Homo sapiens: one gene and its partner. The protein of the gene in region 2 interacts with the protein of the main gene of each other region in a pairwise test. Each region holds a gene or a part of one and is shown on either strand. Other genes may lie near its edges.

The links. The genes of interacting proteins can lie anywhere in the genome.
Region 1: the proteins of AGR3 (region 2) and DESI1 interact in binary tests that used the Homo sapiens proteins (3 or more experiments, as listed by UniProt).

Annotation. Positions count from the first base shown.
Region 1 is NC_000022.11:41,603,079-41,611,398, reverse strand, and holds part of DESI1 (desumoylating isopeptidase 1), read left to right. Parts: intron 1-3,537; coding exon 3,538-3,559; intron 3,560-3,769; exon of another isoform or gene 3,770-3,873; coding exon of another isoform or gene 3,874-3,911; intron 3,912-4,067; coding exon 4,068-4,137; intron 4,138-7,245; coding exon 7,246-7,355; intron 7,356-8,017; coding exon 8,018-8,140; intron 8,141-8,320. UniProt on the Homo sapiens protein: Protease which deconjugates SUMO1, SUMO2 and SUMO3 from some substrate proteins. Has isopeptidase but not SUMO-processing activity. Desumoylates ZBTB46. Collaborates with UBQLN4 in the export of ubiquitinated proteins from the nucleus to the cytoplasm.
Region 2 is NC_000007.14:16,858,086-16,865,477, forward strand, and holds the end of AGR3 (anterior gradient protein 3 precursor), read right to left. Parts: intron 4,578-7,392; coding exon 4,525-4,577; intron 3,976-4,524; coding exon 3,899-3,975; intron 3,363-3,898; coding exon 3,299-3,362; intron 2,499-3,298; coding exon 2,415-2,498; intron 1,547-2,414; coding exon 1,497-1,546; 3' UTR 1,327-1,496; downstream 1-1,326. UniProt on the Homo sapiens protein: Required for calcium-mediated regulation of ciliary beat frequency and mucociliary clearance in the airway. Might be involved in the regulation of intracellular calcium in tracheal epithelial cells.

The sequences.
Region 1 (8,320 bases), on a different chromosome or scaffold from region 2:
TACTTTGGGAGGCTGAGGAGGGCAGATCTCCTGAGGTCAGGAGTTCGAGACCAGCCTGGGCAACATGGTGAAACCCAATCTCTACTAAAAATACAGAAATTAGCTGGGCATGGTGGCGCACACCTGTAATCCCAGCCTGTACTTGGGAGTCTGAGGCACCAGAATTGCTTGAGCCCAGGAGGCGGAGGTTGCAGTGAGCCAAGATCGTGCCACTGCACTCCAACCTAGGCAATAGAGTGAGACTCTGTCTCAAAAAAAGGAATGTTAGTCTCCCCATTTTACATATAGTAAACAGGAAAGAGGAGATTTAGTATCTTATAGCCCAGTGGAACCCAGGGTTTGAAGATGCTCGTCCTAAATGGATTACCACTCCCCTTTGGCATCCAGTCTGGTTCTCATCAACCACTGTGAAATTTCACCTCAGTTTGGATAAGGTCAGAACCTGCCTCACATTCTTTAGGGTGCTATCCCCAGAAACCCCTGGCTAGGATCCCTCTATCCACTTGTGGTCTTTTTTTTTTTTTTGAGACAGAGTTTCGCTCTTTTCACCCAGGCTGGAGTACAATGGCGCCATCTCAGCTCGTCGCAACCTCCGCCTCCTGGGTTCAAGTGATTCTTCTGCCTCAGCCTCCCAAGTAGCTGGGATTACAGGCGCCTGCCACCACGCCCAGCTAATTTTTGTATTTTTAGTAGAGACGGGGTTTCATCATGTTGGCCAGGCTGATCTCAAACTCCTGACCTCAGGTGATCCACCACGCCCGGCCCACTTGTGGTCTTCCGGGCCAGAGCAGCAGATCTCTTGGTGAAAAGCAGACTGATCTCTGGAATTGGAACAGAGGCAGAAGTACTCCGCTACATTTCATTTTCTTGTTATTCCATTTAGCCTGGGAACACTAACAGCAAAGAATGGAATTTTACATGTAAAATAGATATAGCATTTCATATTAATTTGCTGGATGTTGAAATCTGTTCTTAGATTTTACTTACCAATACTGAAGTAGAATTTTTTTTTTTTTTGAGACAGAGTCTCACCCTGTTGCCCAGGCTGGAGTACAGTAGTGGCACGATCTCGGCTCACTGCAACCTCCACCTCCCAGGTTCAAACGATTTTCCTGCCTCAGCTTCCCGAGTAGCTGGGATTACAGGTGCCTGCCACCATGCCCAGCTAATTTTTGTATTTTTAGTAGAGACAGGGTTTCACCATGTTGGTCAGGCTAATCTTGAACTCCTGACCTGTGATCCGCCTGCCTCGGCCTCCCAAAGTGCTGGGATTACAGGCGTGAGCCACCGTACCTTGTCTTTTTTTTTTTTTTTTTTTAAGATAGAGTTTTGCTCTTGTTGCCCAGGCTGGAGTGCAATGGCGCAATCTCGGCTCACTGCAACCTCTGCCTCCTGGGTTCAGGCGATTCTCCTGCCTCAGCCTCCCGAGTAGCTGGGACTATAGGCATGCACTACCATGCCCGGCTAATTTTGTGTTTTTAGTAGAAACGGGGTTGTTGACCAGGCTGGTCTCGAACTCCTGACCTCATGTGATCTGCCCGCCTCGGCCTCCCAAAGTGCTGGGATTACAGGTGTGAGCCACCACACCTGGCCTATTTTTTGTTTTATTTGAGACAGGGTCTCACTCTGTTGCCCAGGCTAGAGTACAGTGGCGCAATCTCGGCTCACTGCCTCCCAAGTTCAAGCAATTCTCGTGCCTCAGCCTCCTGAGTAGCTGGGACTACAGGTGCATGCCACCACACCCAGAGAGTTTTTTTATTTTTATTTTTAGTAAAGACTGGGTTTCTCTGTTGGCCAGGCTGGTCTTGAACTCCTGGCTTCAAGTAATCTGCCTGCCTCGGCCTCCCAAAGTGCTGGGATTACAGGGGTGGGCCACTGTGACATGTCTGAAGTAGAATTTATTTTTATCTTCTGGAAGTCTTTACCCTTTTCCCCAAGGAGGTCATTGTACCTAATAAGAGCCTCCATTTATCAGACATCTGTATATCACATACTGTGAAGCTTTCTATACATTAACATTACCAGTCACAGCAACTCTGAACTGGAGAAACAGACTTAAACAGGCTGGGTAAACTTGCCCAAGATCCACCACTAGGAAGTGGAAAATCCAGGATCTGAACCCATATGGTCCCCTTAACTATCTCTGAGGATGCTATGCCAAGTGTGTGGTGGCTCATGCCTGTAATCCTAGCACTTTGGGAGGCTGAGGCAGGTGGATCACTTGAGGCGAGGAGTTCGAGACCAGCCTGGCCGACATGGCAAAATCCTGTCTCTACTAAAAATACAAAAATCAGCCGGGCTTGGTGGTGCATGCCTGTAATCCCAGCTACTTGGGAGGCTGAGGCATGAGAATCACTTGAACCCGGGGGGCAGAGGTTGCAATGAGCCGAGATCACGTCACTTCACTCCAGCCTGGGCAACAGAGAGACTCTGCCTCTAAAAAAAAGAAAGGCACAGGGCAAACAGCGAAGGTAGCAGTTAGCAATCAGTAATCTGCCATGTCGCCGTGTGAAGTGATAAGCAGGAGTGAGTGGGTGATGTTTGCTGACACTCCACGTCTTTCAATGCCCTTCCTCTGCCTCCTGAGCACTGCTGTAGAGTATCTCTCATGGACTCTTGTGATGGTCTGCTTGGTCTGCTCTCTTCCCTCCAATTCATCTGCTATCCCACAACTACAGTTATCTTTTCCGAACATGGATCTGATCAAGGCACTCTCCAGCCTCACAGCCTCTTTGAGTCCAGGCCTGCCCGCTTTGCTGGCCATCCTGTTGGCCGCTCCTCCCCTTGGCACCATCACTGCCCCCTTCACTCTGCCCTGCAGGCTTTAGACTTCACAGCCATGCATGTGCACATCTTGTTCTCTCCCACAGAAATGTCCATCCCTGCCCTTACTTGTCATTGGTAATGGAAGCTCACAAAAGTAGTTTATTATATTTAGTACCTTATTTTTACCACTATGATACAGCATATTAACATTGTGTTTTAGTTAATTATTTGTGTGTCTCAGTCCATTTGACTTTGAGCTTCTCAAGGGCAGGAAAGTGATACGTTCCTGTTTGCATTTCCACACCTAACATTGTTTCTGGCACATAGAGGTAGAATAACGTGCTTTAACTATTTAAATGGATAGCATTTGCAAAGTTTTATCCTATCAGTTTCTGAAGGATTTCACCTCAATGAAGAAATGAGTAATAACATTCATTGTATTACTATAGTCTTACTGTACGTGAGACAGAGAAGTTAAAAAGGCATAGCTGAATTGACCCCAAAGAGGAAAGAATAGCAGACATAAAACTGGGGTACCTTTATACTAGTGTTTTTAATCTTGCATTCTGATAAAAGACTCTCATTACTTTTCAACTTACTTACACTCTGTCACAACCTAAAGACCTTACTGGAGGGGACTTGCATTCCTAGAAAGTCCCTCAAGAGGTTTATGACAGGTTACCCTGGGTTTGAGTGATGTCATGAATTTACCAAGGCTGAGGGGCCACTTATTCTAGTCCCAAGTGGCTAAATCTCTTCTTCTCTCCACAGGGAAACAACTGGAAGGCATCTGGTAAGTTGGGTGGGTCTCCTTACTTTGACTAGTTTTGAAACAAGGCAGCACTCTATGCATTTCAGGTTCTAGTCTGTGGCTTCCAGCATGAAACCTAGCTCTCCATGCTATAAATCTTCAAGCCCTAAAGCAGTGCTTCTCATCAGTTCTTTTGCTCTCTCACCCTGGGACATTTGGCCATGTCCAGAGATATTTTTGGTTGTCATACAGGGAGGAGGATGCTACTGGCATCTTGTGGATAGAGGCAGGGACGCTGCTCAACAGACTAGAATGCACAGGACAGCCCCACACAACAAAGAAGTATCCAGCCTCAAATGTCAATAGTGCCAAGATTGAGAAGCCCTGATCTGTGGTATTTATCATATTCATACCTTTGGTTTGTTGGTTTTATAAGACTGGTCCCCACAGTCCTATCCTTGGGCAGAAATTACTCTCATTGCATTATGGTGTTTGCTTTTTCTCAAAAGTTTAAGTTTTCTGGCTTACTGTGTCTCTCTCTGTGTGACAGGCACACATCCATAGTTGTGCACAAGGATGAGTTCTTCTTCGGCAGTGGTGGTATCTCCAGCTGCCCCCCGGTGAGTGTCTTCCCCTACACTCTGTCCTGCAGTCTCAGGTTCCTGGGGGCTCCTGTAGACCAGGAGCTTTGCTTCTACTATGGACTTCTGGCATTGTTCCTCAAAGCCACCTGAAGACTTGGCTCAATAAAACCTTTCCCAGACACCCCAGCCAGTTCCTCTCCTCTCTGTTCCCATGGCACGTGTGGGTCCTTCTGTCTCACAGAGAGCATGTTATGGTGAAATGAGCTGTTTCTGGTTCTCCACAGGGAACTGTGTAAGCTCCTTGCGAGCTGAGACCTTCCATCTCCATCCCCTGCACAGTGTCCGGCTCATCCTAGGAACGCAACTGATGTTAAGCTGAATGATGAGGGCTCTGAGAAGCATCAAGACTTGCCCAAACTTAAACAGCCAATAAGGGACACCAGTCCTAGAACCCAGGATTATCACACTAAAGCCCACACCCTTTTCCGAAAATTTCTTTTTTTTTTTTTTTTTTTTTTTTTTTTGAGATGGAGTCTCGCTCCGTCGCCCAGACTGAAGTGCAGTGGTGCGATCTCGGCTCACTGCAAGCTCCGCCTCCCGGGTTCGCGCCATTCTCCTGCCTCAGCCTCCCGAGTAGCTGGGATTACAGGTGCCTGCCACTACACCCAGCTAATTTTTTGTATATTTTAGTAGATACGGTGTTTCAGCATGTTGGCCAGGCTGATCTCAAACTTCTGACCTCGTGATTAGCCCACCTCGGCCTCCCAAAGTGCTGGGATTACAGGCGTGAGCCACAGCGCCCAGCCTTTTCCAAAAATTTCTATCAGCTATCCAAGTGTTGTCACAGTAGGTGCTCAAGCAATGGCCAAGCAGCCATTCATTTTGGTTGTGTGTTTGTTTGTTTTTGCTACATCCTACAGGAAGGATTTTTTTTTTTTTTTTGAGACGGGGTCTTGCTCTGTCACCCAGGCCAGAAATGCAGTGGCACAGTCTTGCTTACTGCAGCCTCCACCTCCCAGGCTCAATGAATCCTCCCACTTGAGCCACCTGAGTGGCTAGGACTCAGCACCACCACGCCCTGCTATTTTTTTCTATTTTTTTAGAGATAGGATCTCCCTATGTTGCCCAGACTGATCTCAAACTCCTGGGCTCAAGCAATCTACTGCATAAGCCAGAATTCTCCCATTGCTTTTGGAATAAAAGCCAGAAAACTCAGCATGGCCTCCCAGGACCTACCTGATCTGGTCTCTGACTCTGACTCTGGCCAGCCTCTTTTAGGTTGTTCCCTCCCAACCCTCACTCTCTTCTCATTCTTTGAACACACCGTAGACATTGAAACCTGCACTCTGACATCAGTACACCTTCTTGATCCTTCACCTGGTTACGCCTCTCCATCCTTCAGATTTGAGTTGTGTCACTTTCTCAGGCAAGTCTTCCCTGATCCCTCAGACCGGGAAGGTCTCCTGTCATACGTACTGTTGGCATTCTGTACTTTTCCAGCCTCCCCTTAATTGCAGCTCATAATTATATACTGGTTAAGGGGATTTTTCAGTTTCCCTTCCCTGCTACACTAAGCTTCTTAACGGCAAGAATCTCATCTATTTTGTCCACACCACAGCCCCAGTGCCTAGCATAAGGCCTGACACATAATAAGTTCTCAATCCATAGTTGTTATATGAGTGAATAAGAGGGGTCAAAGAGTGACCTTTTAGTTTCTTACAACTCTGAGATAATTGTTCTCTGCCTACCATGGTTATCTTGCTCACCATGCTTTCCTCAGTGCCCAGAACAATGTCAGCTATGTAGGAGGTGCTCAGTGGCTATGAATGAATGATCTTTTCAGGGAGCTCTGTTCTGGAGTGTTATCCCTTCCCAGATTTGTTCTCCTGCTGATCCCGTTGCTTCCCCAGTGGCTGGTTTCCCCACTCAACCTCAGTCTCTCCTTCAGTTTTCTCTGGCAGTCTGTTAACCACATGGCTGAGGGTTTTCTGTAGGCCTTTCGGGAGCCATTAACTCCCTTGCCCTATGATGGTGATAGGGCAAGGATTAGGCTCACAGATCCAAAAAGAACTGAATTATGGAAATATCTGCCAGCCTGCCAGATTTCTCACCGTCCTCGTTTTTCCATTATTACACGGGATATCAAGTATATCATAAGAAAAACTGGCTGCATACTTTATGCAAATAGGCATGGAGAGATGGCCTGTGAAGTGTGAGCCATTTCTGTTGTCCTGTTCTGTCCTCATGATGAGACATACTGGGGACAAAAGTAGACTTCAGATTCTGGGTTTCTCTTTCTCAGCTGAGTAAGTGGACAGCATCAGGAGTCAGAGCTGCAAGAGAATCAGCTTCCCAGGGCCCCCCCTCCCCTCTAGAAACAAGAAGTCCGACTCCTAACTATGCTGCCAGCACATGGCAATGAAAAGTGACCAGAAAGCTCTAAGCCAAGCTTGTCCAACCTGCAGCCTGTGGGCCATACGCAGCCCAGGACAGCTTTGAAAGTGGCCTGACGTGAATTTGTAAAGTTTCTTAAAACATGAGATTTTTTTATCTTTTTTTTTTTTTAAGCTCATCAGCTATCATTAGTGTTAGTGTATTTTGTGTGTGGCCCAAGACCATTCTTCTTCCAGTGTGCCTCAGGGAAGCCAAAGGATTGGACACCAATGCTTCTAAGCTATTGCATCCTTGATACAAATAGCAAATCACATTCTTCATCTGCCCAGGGTGCTCTGCAAGTTAAATATGAAGTCAGGCTGGGCGCAGTAGCTCACACCTGTGATCTCAGCACTTTGGAAGGCCGAGGTGGGTGGATCACTTAAGGTCAGGAGTTTGAGACCAGCCTGACCAACATGGTGAAACCCTGTATCTACTAAAAATACAAAAAATTATCTGGGCATGGTGGCAGGCACCTGTAATCTCAGCTACTTGGGAGGCTGAGGCAGGAGGATCACTTGAACCCGGGAGGCGGAGGTTGCAGTGAGCTGAGATTATACTCCAGCCTGGGTGACGAGAGAAACTCCGTCTAAAAAAAAAAAAAAAAAAAAAAAGTCAGAACAGAGTGTTTGTGGTCTACTGTGGGAAGCCACATTAAAACATTCAGTGGAGATGGTAACTTAATGACTTCCTTTGGGTTGGCTCTTTTAGGGAGGGACATTGCTTGGGCCTCCAGACTCTGTGGTTGATGTGGGGAGTACAGAAGTCACAGAAGAAATCTTTCTGGAGTACCTCTCCTCCCTGGGGGAGTCCCTGTTCCGGTGAGTGGAGACAGGGGTGGTGGTTAGTTGTGTCTGTCTCCCCAGCTAGATAATAACCCCTGGAGGCAGCTGCCATGTCATATCATCCTTATCACTCAGCACAAGGCCTGGCCCAGTTTTTTGCTGAATTAACATGAAGAAAAGGCAGTTATGCTACAAAAAGCTCTAAGTTGTTCTGATACAGATATTCCTTCAAACATACTTTCTGCCGAAATTTTTAGAGGAAATAAGGGCTTTTCATTCCTTCTGATTAAAATCGGCAAGCGCTGTTCTCAACCTGTATTGGCCAAGTTTGCAGAAGGAAAAACAGGGTTTGCAGAAGGGTTGGGATGAAATACAAACTTGAGCAGATTTTCTCTGAAAGAGGCTTTAGTCAGTTTCAGTAAGGGGGTAAACTCTTAACACCAGAGTTCTGCTTTCGTGAATGTAAAGATTCTCCTGAAACTGTGTAGGAGCCATGTCTTTTCAGTTTCTCCTTCCCTTAAAAATCAGTTATTAATGGCCAGAATGGCAAATAAGCAGTGCTTTTCTGGTGTATGAGACGGGGGAAATCGCAATCCTCACATTGAGCTGTGCTCACCATTCCACTGCCTAGCTTGAGTTATTCCACATAGACGCTTGCTGGTTTCTCATATATGTTCTGCAAACCTTTCAATGTACAGAGGTGAGGCCTACAACCTCTTTGAACACAATTGTAACACCTTCAGCAACGAAGTGGCACAGTTCCTGACTGGGCGGAAGATTCCTTCTTACATCACAGACCTGCCCTCTGAAGTTCTCTCCACGTAAGTGTGGCCTCTGTCCCTGCCCCTGCCTTGGCCAACCTTGAAAATCCCCATTCACGGTCAGTGCCCTTCCTCTGGCCCCCATCTGCCCTCCCAACCAGGTGGGCCTGCCCTGATGGCAGATTCTAACACAGAAGGCTGCCATTCTCTCCACCCACTGATGCGCACCTGTATTACCTC
Region 2 (7,392 bases):
CAAGTGATTCTCCTGCCTCAGCCTCCTGAGTAGCTGGGATTACAGGTGCTCACCACCATGCCTGGCTAATTTTCGTATTTTTAATAGAGATGGGGTTTCACCATGTTGACCAGGGGCTAGTTAGTCTCGAACTCCTGACCTCAGGTGATCCTCCCATCTCAGCCTCCCAAAGTGCTGGGATTACAGGTATGAGCCACCGCACCCAGCCTCTAAAATATTTTCTACCTTCTGATAATTACTCCCAGCTGATTTTAGGATTTCTATTAGCAGGATTTTTTCTTCTTGTTGCTGTTATTTAAATAAATAGAAGACATGGTATTAACTCTCTGGAGGCTTCCTGTAAAGAACTGAGTTGATGATTGGATATTTGATCATTTCAGAATAAATATAATCCTTTCCTACCAGTTAATTGGAGAAATTCTTCATTTTTCCTGAAGTAGTTACACTTTTCTTAAAATTATTAAAAGTTTTAAAGTATCTACCCAATAATTAAGAAGAACATGTAGCTGGATGCAGTGGCTCGGGCCTGTAATCCCAACACTTTGGGAGGCTGAGGTGGTAGATCACCTGAGGTCAGGAGTTCGAGACCAGCCTGGCCAACATGGTGAAACCCTGTCTCTATTAAAAATACAAAAATTAGCCAGGTGTGGTGGTACACACCTGTAATCCCAGCTACTTGGGAGGCTGAGGCAGGAGAATCGCTTGAACGGGTAGCAGCGGGGACGTGGAGGTTGCAGTGAGCCAAGAGTGCGCCACTGCACTCCAGCCTGGGCAACAGAGCAAAACTTTGTCTCAAATAAATAAATAAATGTAGTTGAATTTTTAAAATATAATTAGGTTTTAAATGTCTAAGTGTAAAGTAAGAAAAGAAGTAAGTGGTTAGTGCTGAAATATGTAGCTAAAAGTTAAAGTCACAAGTGGACAGAGATTTATCCACTTGTTTTGGTAACATGGAGATCATTTATGACCTGGGTTAGCAGGTATGGTACAGGGGAGGAGACAGAATTAAAATTAGATTAGTTGGTGGTTAGACCAGGAACAGTGGCTCAGGCCTATAATCTCAGCACTCTGGCAGGCCAAGGTTGGAGGATTGCTTGAGCCCAGGAGTTTGAGACCAGCCTGGGCAACATAGTGAGACTGCATCTCAAAAAAAAAAATTTAGAAAATTAAAAATAAAATTAGATTAGTTGATGGAGTGAAGGAGAGGTGAAGAAATAGAGACAAACTGTATAGGCACCTCTTATTTAGGTCTTCTTGTCTCCACTATAACTCTTGGCAGGCTTTCTTTGCTACTGATGAGGCAGAAATAAAACTATATTGTCAGTCTCAGATTTAAAAAACATTTATTTTAATAAGACTATTGCAAACACATTAAAAAAACTAAATAGTAATATTACAAAATCTATATACTTGCACATTTAGTATTTGTCAATGTGCCAGAGGTTTTCTTCATGAAATTTGACTTCTTTGAAGTGAAGGCTTTTTTCCATCATCTCTTATAGCTCTGACTGAATAAGTCTTAATGCTTTCTTCATGTTTTCTATCACTGAAATAAGAGTTAATATATATTATGCTATTAATAAATGAAAGTACAAATGCTATGATCTATTAACTCTAGAACCTGAAATTGGCCCATTTAAATTAATAGCTTTGAACATGGGAATTCGTCTATGACATTAAAGAATATGCTAAAAGTGTACATGTAAATTTAGGGATTAGACCATTGAGAGCTGGTTGGTCAACTTTATGTTGAACAATTTCATCAGAGGGGTTTTGAGGAGTACCTCTTTTTTTTTAATGCATCACTTTGTATTAGTATTGCTAGATCTTACAGGCACAGTTGTCTTATTAAATATAGTTGATAATGAATGTTGTAAAAAATAGATTTGGCCAGGCATGGTAGGTCATGCTTGTAATCCCAGCATTTTGGGAGGCTGAGGTGGGAGGATCACTTGAGGCCAGGAGTTTGAGACCAGCCTGGGCAACATACCAAGACCCTGTCTCTACAAAAAAGAAAAAAAAAGGATTAAAGTCCTAGGTAAGACTGTACCTCCTTGCTTATAGGCATTAAAGAAAGATGAAATGATTTTACTATCATTTGATGAAATCACATGAGATCTTTGATACTAGGAGAATGGACTGTCTCAAGTTTGTGTCATTTTAATGTGTACTATATTCTTTTTAGTGAGCTCAGAATTTAGTAATCCTAAAATCCCTTAGACATCCCTGTTAAAATAGATTCTGAGGTACCCCCAAAATTCTGATTTTGGTGGGAGCTAGAAGTTGGCATTTAAACACCACCACTAGCCTCAGTGACTGGTGTGTAGAAGCACTGATGTAGGGCTTCACTAGCCCTTAACAAATAGTCAGGGGTCAGCTATGACCACTGTTTGAGATCATTTGTGAATACTTACATAGGGGTAAATCCCGAGGCTCATATGTGTACAATCTGTTAGAGTATCTTCCAGCTATGTCAGCTCTAACTGTTAAAGAAGGGTCTGTCAAGGAAAAAACCAAGTCACGAAAGTATAATTTAGCATGTTCTTTTCTTTACTCTTGTAAAAACTTAATTATTATTTTATATGTGGGGGTTATGTGTACAAGTTTGTTACACAGATATATTGTGTGATGCTGAAGTTTGGGCTTCAGCTGAACCCAACACCCTAATAGTGAACATAGTAGCCAACAGTTAGTTTTTCATCCTTTGGCTCCCTCCCTCCTTCCCCCGTTTTGGAGTTCCTATTGTCTATTTTTCCTCTCTTTATGTCCATGTGTAACCAGTGTTTAGCTCATATTTATATGTGTGAACATTCACTATTTGGTTTTCTGTTTCTGTGTTCATTTGCTTAGGATAATGGCCTCTGGCTACATCCATAAAACGTTCTTAAAATCATTTTTGTTTCTTAATCTAAAACAAATGTCAAACCAATTTATAATCTAAAACAAATGTCAAACCAATTTATAAGCAAAATTAGTTTTCATACATGTCAGTTCATGAATTAACCTGAATTCTCCTTTTAGTGTGTCATAGGTCTCTGTCAATCTAGTCTGGGGCACTGTGTTGAAAGTACATTGGGATATAGATTTAATAGCATACATGCTTTGAAAAAATATTTAAAATTTTCAAATTACAGATATAGTGGATTTTGATTGTAGAACTAACAAGAGCTGATATTATTGGATTAGAAATGACTTCTCTTTAAAAAGAATAGTACTTGAACTAGCATTTAAAAATAAAAGCAAGAATGCTGATTTCTACTAATTTTGTAGATCTGATGAAATGAGATCACATACATACCTACAAACATGATTCTAGGCACATATTGCCCATCAGGTGATAAATTCTTATCAGTGGTTTCATGCTAGCAGGAGAAGAAAAAAAAAGAATGTTATTGGATTCATTTGTTTTTGATAGTTTCAAGATGATTTTGTGTGACTGTCAGTAAATTCTATTTTGGCCTTTTATAATTCCATACAACTTTCTGTATTAACCAATATTTAGCTCTTTGTGCTTTAAAAATAGAAAAAAAGGAGGCTGGGCATGGTGGCTCATGCCTGTAATCCCAGCACTTTGGGAGGCTGAGGCGGGTGGATCACCTGAGGTCAGGAGTTTGAGACCAGCCTAACCAACAAGGTGAAACCCTGTCTCTACTAAAAATACAAAAATTAGCTGGGCATGGTGGCAGGTGCCTGTAGTCCCAGCTACTTGGGAGGCTGAGACAGGAGAACTGCTTGAACCAGGGAGGCTGAGGTTGCTGTGAGCCCAGATTACGCCACTGCACTCCAGCCTGGGTGACAGAGCGAGACTCTGTCTAAAAAAAAAAAAAAAAAAGAAAAAAACGGATTCAAAATTTCCATGAAATTATAGTATTAAGAAAACATCACAAAGTTTATGTACCATAAGGTTTAGCATGATGAACTTATTCTGAGCCATTTCTTGTATTTCTTCATTTTGGGCAAATACTTTCTTTAGTGCTATAGGGGAAAACAAAATTGCCAGTTAGTTTTAAGGATCAAGAGACCTTTAATGTAACATAGCAAAATAAAGCTAATATTTAGCATTTGTTTGCATATATAACTCAGGTGTAAATATTAATAGTTCATTGGCCTATTGCCACTTTGTCCCTCATTGGAAAGCAATGAGGGACAGTCTGTTCAAGGAGACATCAAAGGATAATCACAGTGAAGACACTAGTTTTTATAATTTTATGTAACTCATTGACTCATTGGTTAAGACAACGACTTTTTTTCAGTGTTTCTACACCTTCTCAGCTCACCCCTTTCTTTTCATGGGAAGAAGAGGAATATGTAATTCCCAAGGGAATATAATAGAAATATTCAGTAGATTGGTAACAATCATTGTGGTCTTTAAGCACCTTAGTAAAATGATGGTACTCTGGCAGTTGTCTATTTTTTTTAATGGGATTTGCTGAGCGCCTTCTTAGCTATTATTACCAGGTCACTTTTCCTATTTTATATTGGAAATATTATATATTATAATAAGATATCAGGGGCTAAAATTACCTTGAGAGTATTGACAATCCTCCAGGTGATGAATAACCATTAATGGCTTCTTACTAAACAAAGAAAGTATGGAATTAAGTCAAATGATTAACTTTGGGTCAAAATATACAGTAGAGTTAGATTTAAAATTTTATTAGCTTCAATAAGGCTTACAGTAGTAATCTCAGATTTACAAATCATAGCACTATAGTCAATAGCAGTGTTACTCTATTTGTGGCCTCAGAACTGATAGTATCAGTATCACTAGGTAGCTTATTAGGAATTTAAATTCAAAGGCTCCGTTCCCAAATCAGGAAAGCCTCCATTCCAAAATTAGCTGGGCACAGTGGTGTGAGCCTGTAGTCCCAGCTGCTCTGGAGGCTGAGACATGAGAATCGCTTGAACCCAGGAGGTGAGGTTGCGGTGAGCCGAGATGGCGCCACTGCACTCCAGCCTGGGTGACAGAGCGAGACTCTGTCTCAAACAGACAAACAAACAAAAAACCAAAGGCTTCATCCCAGACCCACTCAATCAGAATCTCTGGGGTTAGGGGTGGTTTCAGGAATCTGTAGCTTAACAAACTTATTAGGTAATTCTTATGTACTCTATAGTGCAGTTAGAGAAAATCAATTCTGTATCCAGAGATAAAGGGTTATTATGAACAATGTATTCATTTCCAATGAACACTTAGTATAAGATTTCAGGAAAGTCAAAGACTTTTACATTTAGTTTTTTAAAAAGTTTTTACAAAAAAGCTGTTAATATTTGGCTATTTTCACATCCTTTCATTCTTGCACGTTGCAGAATATACAAACAACCTGAGTGGGAGTTCCCTATTTCATACATTTTTGGGGGGTCATTTTGATTTTAACCATAAAAAGTTAAAAAGATAAAAATTCTTCCTCCTACTGCTAACTTCTATAACTATGCTGTATTACTTTTTCTTATATTTTCTCCCAGAGGTTTTCAGGTCATATAACTGAAAATCTATATGAATATGTTTATATATTGTATATACCCAGATGCATGTTCACATTTATGTGTATGTATTTCTTTTTAAAAAACAAAAATACTAGCACACAAGTATCTACATTTTGCTTTTAAAATATAAATCTTAGATATGCCACTGTTCTTTTATATTATATTCTATTATATTAATATTTTATCTTATTAGTCTCCCCAAAGATGGATATTTAAATTGTTTCCAATCTCTTGTGTTTAGATTGTTCCTAAACATTTACATTTGTACACTTATTTGCTAAACATGCTTTTTTTTTAAGGCACGCAGTTTCTTTACACCCATAATTGCATCCTAAACTCTTGTATAGTTCATATTTACAGCCCCCCATAAAGTTTTTGCATTCTGAATTAGTCCTTCACATTTTGATATTTGGCATAATGTTCAAACACACTTTATACACACTGACCTCTCCTTAAACCACTCATAGATTTAATAAATCCTACAGAAAAACATTCAGAGATTACTTGAAAGCTTGATCTTCTATTTACTTCAAGGTGACAGAAGAGTTAGTTTTTCGTGATGAAAGACTACAGGAACGGAGAATTAACAAACTGTTGTGTAATTCATCAGAGAAGTATATTAACTCTGCTGAAGTACCACTGAATGAAACAAAAATGAATCTGTGAAGTAGCAATCTGATTAGCAGGCTGGCTTCTATGTCCCATCACTCTCATAGTCTTCTATTATTATATTTTCTTCCACGTCTCCTTGGGCTGAAAAGAGCTGAGGCTGGCTGGCAGGCAGTTCACTGGCACTATTCTGACTCAGAGGAAGAGACCAGGTTTCCAGCTCTGTGTCCTGTGCGGGTTCACCCAGAGATTCCTCTGCAGAATGTCCTCCGTTAAGCTGGGCTTCATCTCCACTGTCAGGGTCGATCATTCCATGTTCCCTGTCAGTCAGGGCTTCCATTTTCAGTCTTCCGAAGTGTTGCTTCAGAGGGAGCCTTCCAATATCTTGGATAAGAGAAATCTGAGCTTGATTTCTCATTGGAATGGTTATTAGAGCAAGGTATGGCAGTAGCTGAGTTTGGAGGCATAAAGCTGGTAGGCAGAAGTCAGGAAAAAGTGCTTTTGCTGCCAGGCAATTTTCCCCATACTTTTTATGTATTAGAAACCACTGCGGTGTGTGCGAGGGTCAAAAACTTGATCCTTCTCCTTGGCAATGAGCATATCCTCCGGCTTTGTTGGAATGTATCACACCTCTTGTAGCTATAGATGTCCTATATTTCCTGAGTAAAGAGCGTGTATTCCAGTCACCACTGAGGATACCTGCAAAACTTAGAAATTCACTGGCTCTCACAATATCATCAATTTCCATGAAGAAGTCTATGTAGTTTTGGTGAAGATATAAATTAAATAAGTCTCCTGGCATGTGTGACATTTCTACTACCTCCTCAGGTTCAACAAGTATGTATCCTGTTCATATTCTGATAAATGAGAGGGCAACCAAGATGAGTCTGATTCTGTTAAAGATGCTCTTTTACTGTATAAAATTTTCCCCAAAGCTCGGAAGAGAAACAGAGAAACGTCTTTGCCACCAGTAGCTTGGACCTCTTGACTTTCAAAAACCCTATCAGTTTTTTTTCTTTGTTTTGATTTTGACAGCGTAGCATTTGATTTTAAAGACATTCTTTTTTTCCTTGGCCATAAGTTGTTTTCTCCTTTTGAAGAAGAAATCTGGAGGCTGTTTATTGCACTTCTCATATCACCAGAACATCCTTGACAGAGCACCTCTAGAGAAGTTTTGTCAGGGACAGTAATTTTTCCTCCATTCTTGTTAGCCTCTATAGTCACTATTCGATTAAGAAATTTCATCGTAATTGTTGGTGCCACAGGGTTGAAACTAATATTTGAGGTAGAATGCTCTTC